Regions from separate parts of the Homo sapiens genome. Here region 1 is linked to region 2. The links come from fine-mapping of genetic effects on gene expression. A gene starts in region 2. The other region holds a variant in brackets. All regions are shown on one strand. Distances are from middle to middle. Region 1 overlaps ITGB3 (integrin subunit beta 3). Region 2 holds the start of ITGB3 (integrin subunit beta 3).

What was found. PIP is the estimated chance that this variant, and not a neighbour inherited with it, causes the effect.
Region 1: its variant is the best candidate, but not a certain one, in a credible set for the expression of ITGB3 in whole blood (INTERVAL, PIP 0.60).

The regions. Positions count from the first base shown.
Region 1 is chr17:47,306,111-47,311,592 of GRCh38, forward strand. ITGB3 (integrin subunit beta 3) reads left to right here. Exons shown (of 15, transcript NM_000212.3): 14 at 1,361-1,527; 15 at 4,029-5,482. The coding sequence ends at 4,094. All of the region lies in intron 2 of EFCAB13-DT (EFCAB13 divergent transcript), which reads right to left. Among named protein-coding and RNA genes, the nearest start is that of EFCAB13-DT, 15 kb to the right of the region's middle. The variant C/G (reference allele first, on the strand shown) is at 2,813.
Region 2 is chr17:47,251,110-47,256,360 of GRCh38, forward strand. It overlaps ITGB3 (integrin subunit beta 3), which reads left to right and starts at 2,718. Exons shown (of 15, transcript NM_000212.3): 1 at 2,718-2,831. The coding sequence starts at 2,753. RefSeq lists a silencer at 2,513-2,772.

The sequences.
Region 1 (5,482 bases), 55 kb after region 2:
ACACACCAACAAGTCACACTGCCTTCCTCTAGGAGAGAGAAGGGAGAGTGGTGGGGATTCTGGTAAACTAGAAAACATGAGTTCCAACTAAAAGGAGCAGCTCCTCCTCAGCTCTAGCTAACTGCTGCTCTGCAGGAATATAAGAATCTCTCTCTTTCTGTATTTCTCTCTTTCTTTCTTTTGAGATAGTCTCTCCCTCTGTCATCCAGGCTGGAGAGCAGTGGCACGATCATGGCTCACTATGACCTTGACCTCCCAGGCTCAAACGATCCTCCCACCTCAGCATCCTGAGTAGCTGGGACTACAGGCATATGCCACAATGCCTGGCTAATTAAAAAAGACAATTTTGTAGAGGCAGAGCCTCACTATGTTGCCCAGGCTGGTCTTGAACTTCTGGACTCAAGCTGTCCTCCTGCCTCGGCCTCCCAAGTGCTGGCATTATAGGCATGAGCCACTGGGCCTGGCCTGGATTTTCTTTTTAAAGAGACTAATATGAAATTTTAGGGGGAGAATCTCCTGATTATTCAATATTGCCAATAAAGTCAATTTTTTATTTCTTATTCATTTATTTATTTATTTATTTATTTTGAGATGGAGTTTTGCTCTGTTACCCAGGCTGGAGTGTAATGGTGTGATCTCGGTTCACTGCAACCTCTACCTCCCAGGTTCAAGTGATTCTGTGCTTCAGCCTCCCAAGTAGCTGGGATTACAGGTGCTCGCCACCATGCTAGGCTAATTTTTGTAGTTTTAGTAGAGATGGGGTTTCACCATGTTGGCCAGGCTGGTCTCAAACTCCTGACCTCAGGTGCTCTGCCCACCTTGGCCTCCCAAAGTGCTGGGATTACAGGTGTGAGCCACCACACTCGGCTTTTTATTTTTAATTTTTTAAAAAACTTTTATTTTTGCTTTAGGGGTACATGTGTGGGTTTGTTCCGTAGATAAACTGTGAGTCATGGGGGTCTGGTGTACCTATTATTTCATCACCCAGGTAATAAGCATAGTGACTCATAGGTAGTTTTTCGATCCCCACCTCCTCCCCGTCTCCACCCTCAAGTAGGTCCCAGTGTCTGGTGTTCTCTTCTTTGTGTTTAATTTTTAAAATAAACACTTGGGTGAACCCCCACACAAAGGTGTGGCTGGGTTCTGTCTAGGGGTTACCAGGTCTAGACTTCTGATTTGAGCCACTCAGTGCAGATTATTGCTGTCCTAATGATTGTCTCCTTAAAAAAATTAATTTTTGAAAACTGTCCTATTTCCTTCAAGGACCTTAGTTACTTTGTCAAGAACACCTTTTTCATAGCCAGTTCAAGTGACTCCTGCTTCATTCACAACCGCCCTGCTCTGTGCTTCTTCCTCACAGAGTGTCCCAAGGGCCCTGACATCCTGGTGGTCCTGCTCTCAGTGATGGGGGCCATTCTGCTCATTGGCCTTGCCGCCCTGCTCATCTGGAAACTCCTCATCACCATCCACGACCGAAAAGAATTCGCTAAATTTGAGGAAGAACGCGCCAGAGCAAAATGGGACACAGTAAGAGACGGGGCTGGGCGTTTTCTAAAGTCATTGGTCTGAGACTCTTAAGTGGAAGCAGCAGATGCTTTGGGTGGTCATGTTCAGCCAGTACCATCGTCTTTCCATTATCCTCTGTTCTGGAAACTGGGAGAGATGGTCTCACTATCCCCTTGTCCTTCAGCTTCCTTCAGCCTCTTAGAAATAGTGGCAGGATGTCATTCCATCTCATTCTCTTCTTTCTCCTCAAATAAATGGTTACTTCCAGGCTGGGCCTGGTGGCGCGTGCCTGTAATCCCAGCACTTTGAGAGGCCAAGGTGGGCAGATCACTTGAGCTCAAGAGTTCGAGACCAGCCTGGGCAACATGGTGAAACCCCGTCTCTATTAATAATATAAAAATTAGCCGGGTGTGGTGGTGCATGCCTGTAATCCCAGCTATTCGGGAGGCTGAAGCAGGAGGATTGCTTGAACCCAGTAGGTAGAGGTTGTAGTGAGCTGAGATTGCACCCTGCTCTGGGTGACAGAGCAGGACTCGGTCTCAAAAATAATAATAATAATAATAATAATAATAAAATAAAATAAAAGGTTACTTCCAAATCAGACTCTACTCTTTTATCCTGATTTATTCCAATTAAATAAGCATTTACTGAGAACTTTCTATATACTTAATCTTACTCTATTCTCTTTTGGCTCTTCTTTCACATTTCAACTTTTTTCCTCGACCCTCCAAATGGCTATTTGACTCCCCAAATGTCCAGAGTTAGGCTGCAAGTTTGTTCCCATTTGATGTTGACCCCAGAGCTTTATACTCAAGGGTCCCAAGAAACTGAGATGTTTCTGTTAGAACAGTGTGGAACATCCTGTACCTATGAGGCCCACAGGAATGTGTTTCTTTCTCTTTTTTTTTGGAGACAGAGTCTTGCTCTGTCACCCAGGCTTGAGTGTAGCGATCTTGGCTCACTGCAACCTTGGCCTCTCAGGTTCAAGTGATTCTCCTGCCTCAGCCTCCCAAGTAACTGGATTACAGGCGCCAGCCACTGTGCCCAGCTATTTTTTGTATTTTTAGTAGCGACGGGGTTTCACCATGTTGGCCAGGCTGGTCTCGAACTCCTGACCTCGTGATCACCCGCCTCGGCCTCCCAAAGTGCTAGGATTCCAGGCGTGAGCCACTGCGCCTGGCTAAGAATGTGTTTCTTGAAGCTACCATTATAGGATTTGTTACTTTCTGTTGGAAAATAGTTTGGGAAACCTAGTGAGGGTCTTACTTTTTCCTGATAACATGACAGTTTGTGGATAGTGCTTTCT[C/G]TTTCTCTCCCCTCCTCTCCCATTCCCTCCCCTCCCCTCCCCTCTCCTCCCCTCCCCTTCCTTTTACGCTTCCTCCCCTCCCCTTCCCTTCCTCCCCTCCTCTCCTTTTCTTTCCCTTCCCTTCCCTCCTTCCTTCTTTTTTTGAGACAGGGTCTCGCTCTGTCACCCATGCTGGAGTGCAGTGGTGCCATCATGGCTCAATGCAGCCTCCATCTCCTGGGCTCAAGTGATCCTCCCACCTCACCCTCCCAAGTAGCCAGGACTACAGGCACACATCACCGAGCCAGCTAATTTTTGTATTTTTTTCCCTTGTAGAGACAGGGTCTCACTCTGTTACCCAGGCTGGTCTAGAACTCCTGGGCTCAAGTGATCTTCCTACCTTGGCCCCTAAAAGTGCTGGGATTATAGGCATAAACCACCATGCCTGGCCATGGTTAGTGCTTGGCCAGATTAGATGAAAACAAATTAATAATTATTTGAGCAAAAGCTTTCCTCTGTGTTCTGAATTGCACCTGATACATTTCTGTCCCTTGTCCACATCTCCTATCACTGTCACAGGGAATGGAAAATAGGAGAAGGGCAAAAGAGACGGGGACACAGGGGTGAAATAGGAGAGGTTCTATCCCCGAATGCTGTGGAATCACTGAAGAGTGATAGGCTGAATATAGCTCCTTAGAAATAGTGGCAGGGAACAGGTGTGGTGGCTCATGCCTGTAATTCCAGCACTTTGGGAGGCTGAGGCAGGTGGATCGCTTGAGCTCAGGAGTTTGAGACCAGCCTGGGCAACATGAAGAAACCCCATCTCTACAAAAAAATGCAAAAATTAGCCAGACATGGTGGTGTGTGCCTGTAGTCCCAGCTACTTGGGAGGCTGAGGTGGGAGGATGTCTTGAGTCAGGGGAGGTGGAGGTTTCAGTAAGCCGAGATTGTGCCACTGCACTCCAGCCTGGGCAACAAAATGAGACCCTGTCTGAAAAAAAAAAAAAAAAAAAGAAACGGTGGCAGGATGGCATTCTACCTCATCTCCTCCTGTTATTTCCTATCAATTCCCATGCCAAGAACTAAAGTGTGAGCAAAATGAACATTATTCTGTTTCATTGATGATGTATTCCAGAGAACGGTGCCTTGGGAAAACTTCTGAGATGAATTTTAAACATTCAGGGTAGGGAAGGACTTAAGGAAGTCACTGTAAGATGCTATTCTGTTTCCTCCACAGGCCAACAACCCACTGTATAAAGAGGCCACGTCTACCTTCACCAATATCACGTACCGGGGCACTTAATGATAAGCAGTCATCCTCAGATCATTATCAGCCTGTGCCACGATTGCAGGAGTCCCTGCCATCATGTTTACAGAGGACAGTATTTGTGGGGAGGGATTTGGGGCTCAGAGTGGGGTAGGTTGGGAGAATGTCAGTATGTGGAAGTGTGGGTCTGTGTGTGTGTATGTGGGGGTCTGTGTGTTTATGTGTGTGTGTTGTGTGTGGGAGTGTGTAATTTAAAATTGTGATGTGTCCTGATAAGCTGAGCTCCTTAGCCTTTGTCCCAGAATGCCTCCTGCAGGGATTCTTCCTGCTTAGCTTGAGGGTGACTATGGAGCTGAGCAGGTGTTCTTCATTACCTCAGTGAGAAGCCAGCTTTCCTCATCAGGCCATTGTCCCTGAAGAGAAGGGCAGGGCTGAGGCCTCTCATTCCAGAGGAAGGGACACCAAGCCTTGGCTCTACCCTGAGTTCATAAATTTATGGTTCTCAGGCCTGACTCTCAGCAGCTATGGTAGGAACTGCTGGGCTTGGCAGCCCGGGTCATCTGTACCTCTGCCTCCTTTCCCCTCCCTCAGGCCGAAGGAGGAGTCAGGGAGAGCTGAACTATTAGAGCTGCCTGTGCCTTTTGCCATCCCCTCAACCCAGCTATGGTTCTCTCGCAAGGGAAGTCCTTGCAAGCTAATTCTTTGACCTGTTGGGAGTGAGGATGTCTGGGCCACTCAGGGGTCATTCATGGCCTGGGGGATGTACCAGCATCTCCCAGTTCATAATCACAACCCTTCAGATTTGCCTTATTGGCAGCTCTACTCTGGAGGTTTGTTTAGAAGAAGTGTGTCACCCTTAGGCCAGCACCATCTCTTTACCTCCTAATTCCACACCCTCACTGCTGTAGACATTTGCTATGAGCTGGGGATGTCTCTCATGACCAAATGCTTTTCCTCAAAGGGAGAGAGTGCTATTGTAGAGCCAGAGGTCTGGCCCTATGCTTCCGGCCTCCTGTCCCTCATCCATAGCACCTCCACATACCTGGCCCTGTGCCTTGGTGTGCTGTATCCATCCATGGGGCTGATTGTATTTACCTTCTACCTCTTGGCTGCCTTGTGAAGGAATTATTCCCATGAGTTGGCTGGGAATAAGTGCCAGGATGGAATGATGGGTCAGTTGTATCAGCACGTGTGGCCTGTTCTTCTATGGGTTGGACAACCTCATTTTAACTCAGTCTTTAATCTGAGAGGCCACAGTGCAATTTTATTTTATTTTTCTCATGATGAGGTTTTCTTAACTTAAAAGAACATGTATATAAACATGCTTGCATTATATTTGTAAATTTATGTGATGGCAAAGAAGGAGAGCATAGGAAACCACACAGACTTGGGCAGGGTACAGACACTCCCACTTGGCATCATTC
Region 2 (5,251 bases):
TGTAACTCTTCTGTAAGTATTAATGATTTCAAAATAAAAAGTTAGGGAAAAAAATCCAGGAGGAGAAGAAAGAGAAACAAGAATATAAAGGATGGCAGACTTCTCACCAGAGATGATGGAGACAGCAAACAGCAGACCATCTTTAATGTACTTGAAGAGACAAGTCTCAATCAATTTAGAAGTTTATTTGGCCAAGGTTAAGCACATGCCCATGACATAGCCTCAGGAAGTCCTGAAGACACGTGCCCAAGGTGGTCAGGCTACAGCTCAGTTTTATACATTTTAGGGAGACAAAAGACATCAATCAATACATGTACATTGAACATTGGTTCAGTCCAGAAAGGCAGGACATCTGACACAGGGACTTCCAGGTTAGAGACGGATTCAAAGATTTTTTCATTGGCAATTGGTTGTAAGTGTTATTATCTAAAGACCTAGAACCAACAGAAAGGAATGTCTGAGTTAGGATAAAGGGTTGTGGAGACCAAACTTTTATCATGCAGATGAAGCCAGAGGCTTCAGACAGAATAGACTGTTAATGTTTCTTATCAGACTTAGAGAGTCTATTCTATCAGCCTTAAGGTCTTTGTGTTGATGCTAATGCTGGTCAGCTGTGAGGCATATTCAACCACCACCCCCCCTCCACCTTCCCCAAACCTGCTTCACATCATGGTCTGAACTAGTTTTTCAGATTAACTTTGGAATGCCCTTGGCTGAGAGGAAGGGTTAGTTCAGACAGTTGTGGGGGGGCTTATAATGTTATTTTTAGTTTACAGGTTCTTACAATTTACATAGAATTGTTCAATATTAATTCAACATAGGCTACTGTATGATAAGTTAAGGAGGAATATTGTAATACCTAGAGCAAACACACACACACACACACACACACACACACACACATGCAAACGAGGTGTAGCTAGGAAGCCAGTAGAGAAAAAAAAATTATCCCAAAAGAAAGCAGAAAAAGAGAAACAGAGAAACCAGCCAAAAAGATAGAACGAATAACAAGATAGTAAATGTAAACACAACCATCAATTACTATACTAAATGTGAATGGACTAGCTCCTTTGCCTTCCCTGGGGCTGGGAGTGCAGGATGGACTCACTTGCACAATTATGTCATGTTTGCTAGGGCTTGGGCTAGGGTTGTGGACTTAGCATACTTGCTGAGGCCAGTGCCCACCCCAAGTGGTTGCTGACAGCAGGGATAGGCTAAGGAGACACCTAAGTGGCTGGAGATTGGTTTTATATATATGGGAATGGAGCAGATAACTAAATACTTAGGCAGAGATGTAACCAGGCCATGTGACCTGAACTTTGCTCCAGGGCATTGACACTGCTGTTAAAATGCTTCTGGCCTAGAGGCCCTCTGCAGCCAGGGGAGGTAGATGGAGCTTCAGCCTGAAAACCCAGGTCAGAGGGCCCAAGTACCCTTTGCAGAGCTGGCTTTTCCCCTTGCAAATTGCTAGTGACGCTTCAGCTGATGTGTGTTACTATTAAGGTCCTAGTGTTTGGGAGGGTGGGGCAGGAGGTGGAGGATTGTCAGAAAAAAATTACATGGAAAAAGATGGCATCTGAGATGTTTTGAAAGATAAGTGGAATTTTCCAAGTGGAAAAAGGAAGGAAAATCAGTCAGATAGGAAGGCATGGAGCATTGGGGAATGACAAGTATCTTCTTGGACTAGGGTGGGAGATGGGCTGGAGAGATGGGTCAGGGCCAGTTGTCTGGCATCTTGTGTGTCTCAGAAGAGGGTGGGCACGCTGCGTAGGGAAGCCCAGGGCCACTCTGAAAGCCCTAAAGGGGAACTGATGCCTCTGGCCTTGTTTTTATCACCATCAGGACTACCCATTGAGGCAGGCTGCACTACCAGCTACTTCCTGGTGCCCTCTTGCTCATAGCCATAGTATTTTGCCTCTCTGAGCTTCCAGAGGTTTTAAGTCTGGGGAAGACCCAGGGACTCAAAGAAAGATTGGGGTGGGAGATAAGGGGCCACAGTTTGGGGGAGTCAGGCAGGAGGCCTTTGAGGAAAATAGATAAAGTCCCAAAGCCTGTGAGTGTGAATTTGGAGGCAATATGCTGTGTTCTGAAACGTTTTCAGACACTGGCTAGGTGCAAGCAAGTGTTTGTAGGGCGAGGCTCTTCATGGACCTATCACTGCTTACGCAAGCTTGGGATGTGGTCTTGCCCTCAACAGGTAGGTAGTCTACCGGAAAACCAAACTAAGGCAAGAAAAAAATTAGTGAATAATAAAGGACTGAACCGGTTCAGAGAAGGCATTCAGCAGATGTTTGCCAGTCAAATGAATTAAAGTGTGAATGAATGAAACTCGAGGTAGTGGGTGAATGTGTCCCAAGAATCCAGCGAAACAGGGTCTCCCAGGAGGCGGGACTGGAAGGGTCCGGAGAGGGGCCACAGGCTCCTGGCCTTTCTAAGCACACCAAGTGCCCAGTCGCGGACCCCCGGGACCAGGATGCGCTGACGACCCGGCTGGCAGGCGGGTCCTCGTGGGCGAGGCGAGGGAGGCGGCGAGAGAGGAGCAATAGTTTCCCACCGCTCCCTCTCAGGCGCAGGGTCTAGAGAAGCGCGAGGGGATCTAGAGAAGCCGGAGGGGAGGAAGCGCGAGTCCGCGGCCCGCCCCGTTGCGTCCCACCCACCGCGTCCCCTCCCCTCCCCTCCCGCTGCGGGAAAAGCGGCCGCGGGCGGCGGCGCCCACTGTGGGGCGGGCGGAGCGCCGCGGGAGGCGGACGAGATGCGAGCGCGGCCGCGGCCCCGGCCGCTCTGGGCGACTGTGCTGGCGCTGGGGGCGCTGGCGGGCGTTGGCGTAGGAGGTGAGTGAGGCTCCGGCTCGGCAGCGTCGCAGCTGCCCCAGGATCTGCGCCCCGGTCAAGTTGCGGACTTGGAGCCGGCAAACGCGGAGGGCTGGTCCCGCGCGTCTGCGCTGGGAATGCGCGTGTCCTGGCTGGCGCGGTCGGAGCCGGGAGCTGGGGACCTTCCTGGCCCGGCGGTGGCGGGGCTGAGAGGTGCCTGGTGCCTGGGAGCGGGTCCTCCGAGACGCCGAAGCCATCAGCCAGGCTGAGCGCCTTCCCGGCCGCCGCGGCGCGCACGGTGCGGTGGGCGCATCTCTGAGCCCCGCGCTCACCCGGGGCTGCGCGCGTCGCGGGTGGTCCTGGTCGGGCCAAGGACGACTGGCCCAGGAGCCAAGGCGAGGTGGGGCTTCCGGGGGTTGTTCCCGCGCCTTGGCAGAGGGATGCCGCTGTAGCTTCCTGGGTGAGAGCGTGCGCGCGCGCGGGTTTGCCAGTTTCCCCACATTTCCAATTTCTCCTGTTACGCTTTCTCCAGAAGGTTTTTTCTTTTCCTTTTTTCTTTCTTTCTTTCTTTTTTTTACCTTCAACTTGGCTTCCTGCGGGGTTGTTTTGGAGCAGGATGAGGGCTTTGCCTCCTCCAGTGTCCCCAGGTGGCAGCGGTGCCTCTGCTCCCAGGGCAGACCCTGCACCCGAAAAATCTCTAGTGTATTCGGGGAGCCATGAAAAGGCTCCCTTGGGCCGGTGGGATCCTTGGCTTTGTCTCTGGCTGCTGCGCACACCGTCAGCCGTCAGGGCAATTGGCATTCGGCCTCTTTGGTACTGGGGACACAGGTGGAGGGATGGAGCGGGCACAGCCCGGGGTTGCTGCCCGTGGTCCTCTCTGAGTCCTTGGTGATTTTGCCTGGGCTGGAGAGAAACCCTGGCTCCTGGTCTGCTGGGGCCGCCTCTGCCTCAGAGGATGACACAAGAGTGCATGTAAGTATTTTTAATAAAAACTGTAGTACTCGTAAAACAATCTACACCCTGCAGAAGGGATTTGTTATTTTATTTTATTATTTATTTATTTATTTATTTATTTTTGAGACGGAGTCTTGCTCTGTCGCCCAGGCTGGAGTGCAGTGGTGGGTTCTCGGCTCACTGCAACTTCTGCCTCCTGGGTTTAAGCGATTCTTCTGGCTCAGCCTCCCGAGTAGCTGGGATTACAGGCGCCTGCCACCACGGCCGGCTAATTTTTGTATTTTTAGTAGAGACGCGGTTTCACCATGTTGGCCAGGCTGGTCTGGAGCTCCTGGCCTCAAGTGATCCGCCCACCTCAGCCTCCCAAAGTGCTGGGAATACAGGCGTGAGCCACCGCACCTGGCCAGGATTTATTTTAAAAAGGGAAGATTTGTTGATAAATTCACTTCAAAGATAAACTATTCGAAAATACTTTAGTGATTCCCGTCAAGACTCTTCTGTGTATGTATAGACGTATAACTCATTCTGGACAGGGCAAGGATATCTTTTTTTGTTTGTTTGTTTGTTTTGAGATGGACTCTCGCTGTCGCCAGGCTAGAGTGCAGTGGCGCGATTTCAGCTCACTGCAACCTCCGCTTCCCGGGTTCAAGGGATTCTCCTGCCTCAGCCTCCCGAGTAGCTGGGATTACAGGCACGCACCACCACGCCCTACTAATTTTTGTATTTTTAGTAGAGACGGGATTTCCCCATGTTGGCCAGGATGATCTCGATCTCTTGACCCCGTGATCAGCCTGCCTTGGCCTCCCAAAGTGCTGGGATTACAGGCGTGAGCCACCGCACCCGGCCAAGGGTATCTTGAAGGAGGGATTACAGTTGATATGTAGAGGAATATTGCAGTGGTTATTGCTGCATTTCCTATGTGACTGGGACTAAAACAGATCAGCTGATAGTGTTAGCGTGCAGTGAGCAGTCTGATGACTATGACACAGAAATAAGAATCTCCAGCATTCTGCCCTGGGACATGTGGAGCCTTGGGTCAGATGCTGCTGGCTATTGATGCCGGGAATGGAGAAATCCACCAGGGCAACTCAGTAAAAATAAATAAATAAATAAATAAATAAATACATAATTAAAAAAAGGGTATCCTTGTCCTGTCCAGGATGAGATGCTTGCTTCCATGCACTTACGACAATTTTTGCTGTCATTAAAAAATTTTCACATTCACAGTCTTCTAAATTCACTTTGGAGTGTATTGGATTCCACTGCATTGACATACGTAAGTTTGCATTAAAAGATCCTTTAAGATATCTGGTCAGGCACGGTGGCTCACGCCTGTAATCCCAGCACTTTGGGAAGTGGAGGTAGAAGGATTGCTTGAGCCCAGGAGTTCGAGACCAGCTTGGGCAACATAGTGAGACCTAATCTCTACTAAAAATTAAAAAAAAATCCTTAGGCGATCTGTTCACAGATTAATCTTGTGATTGGGG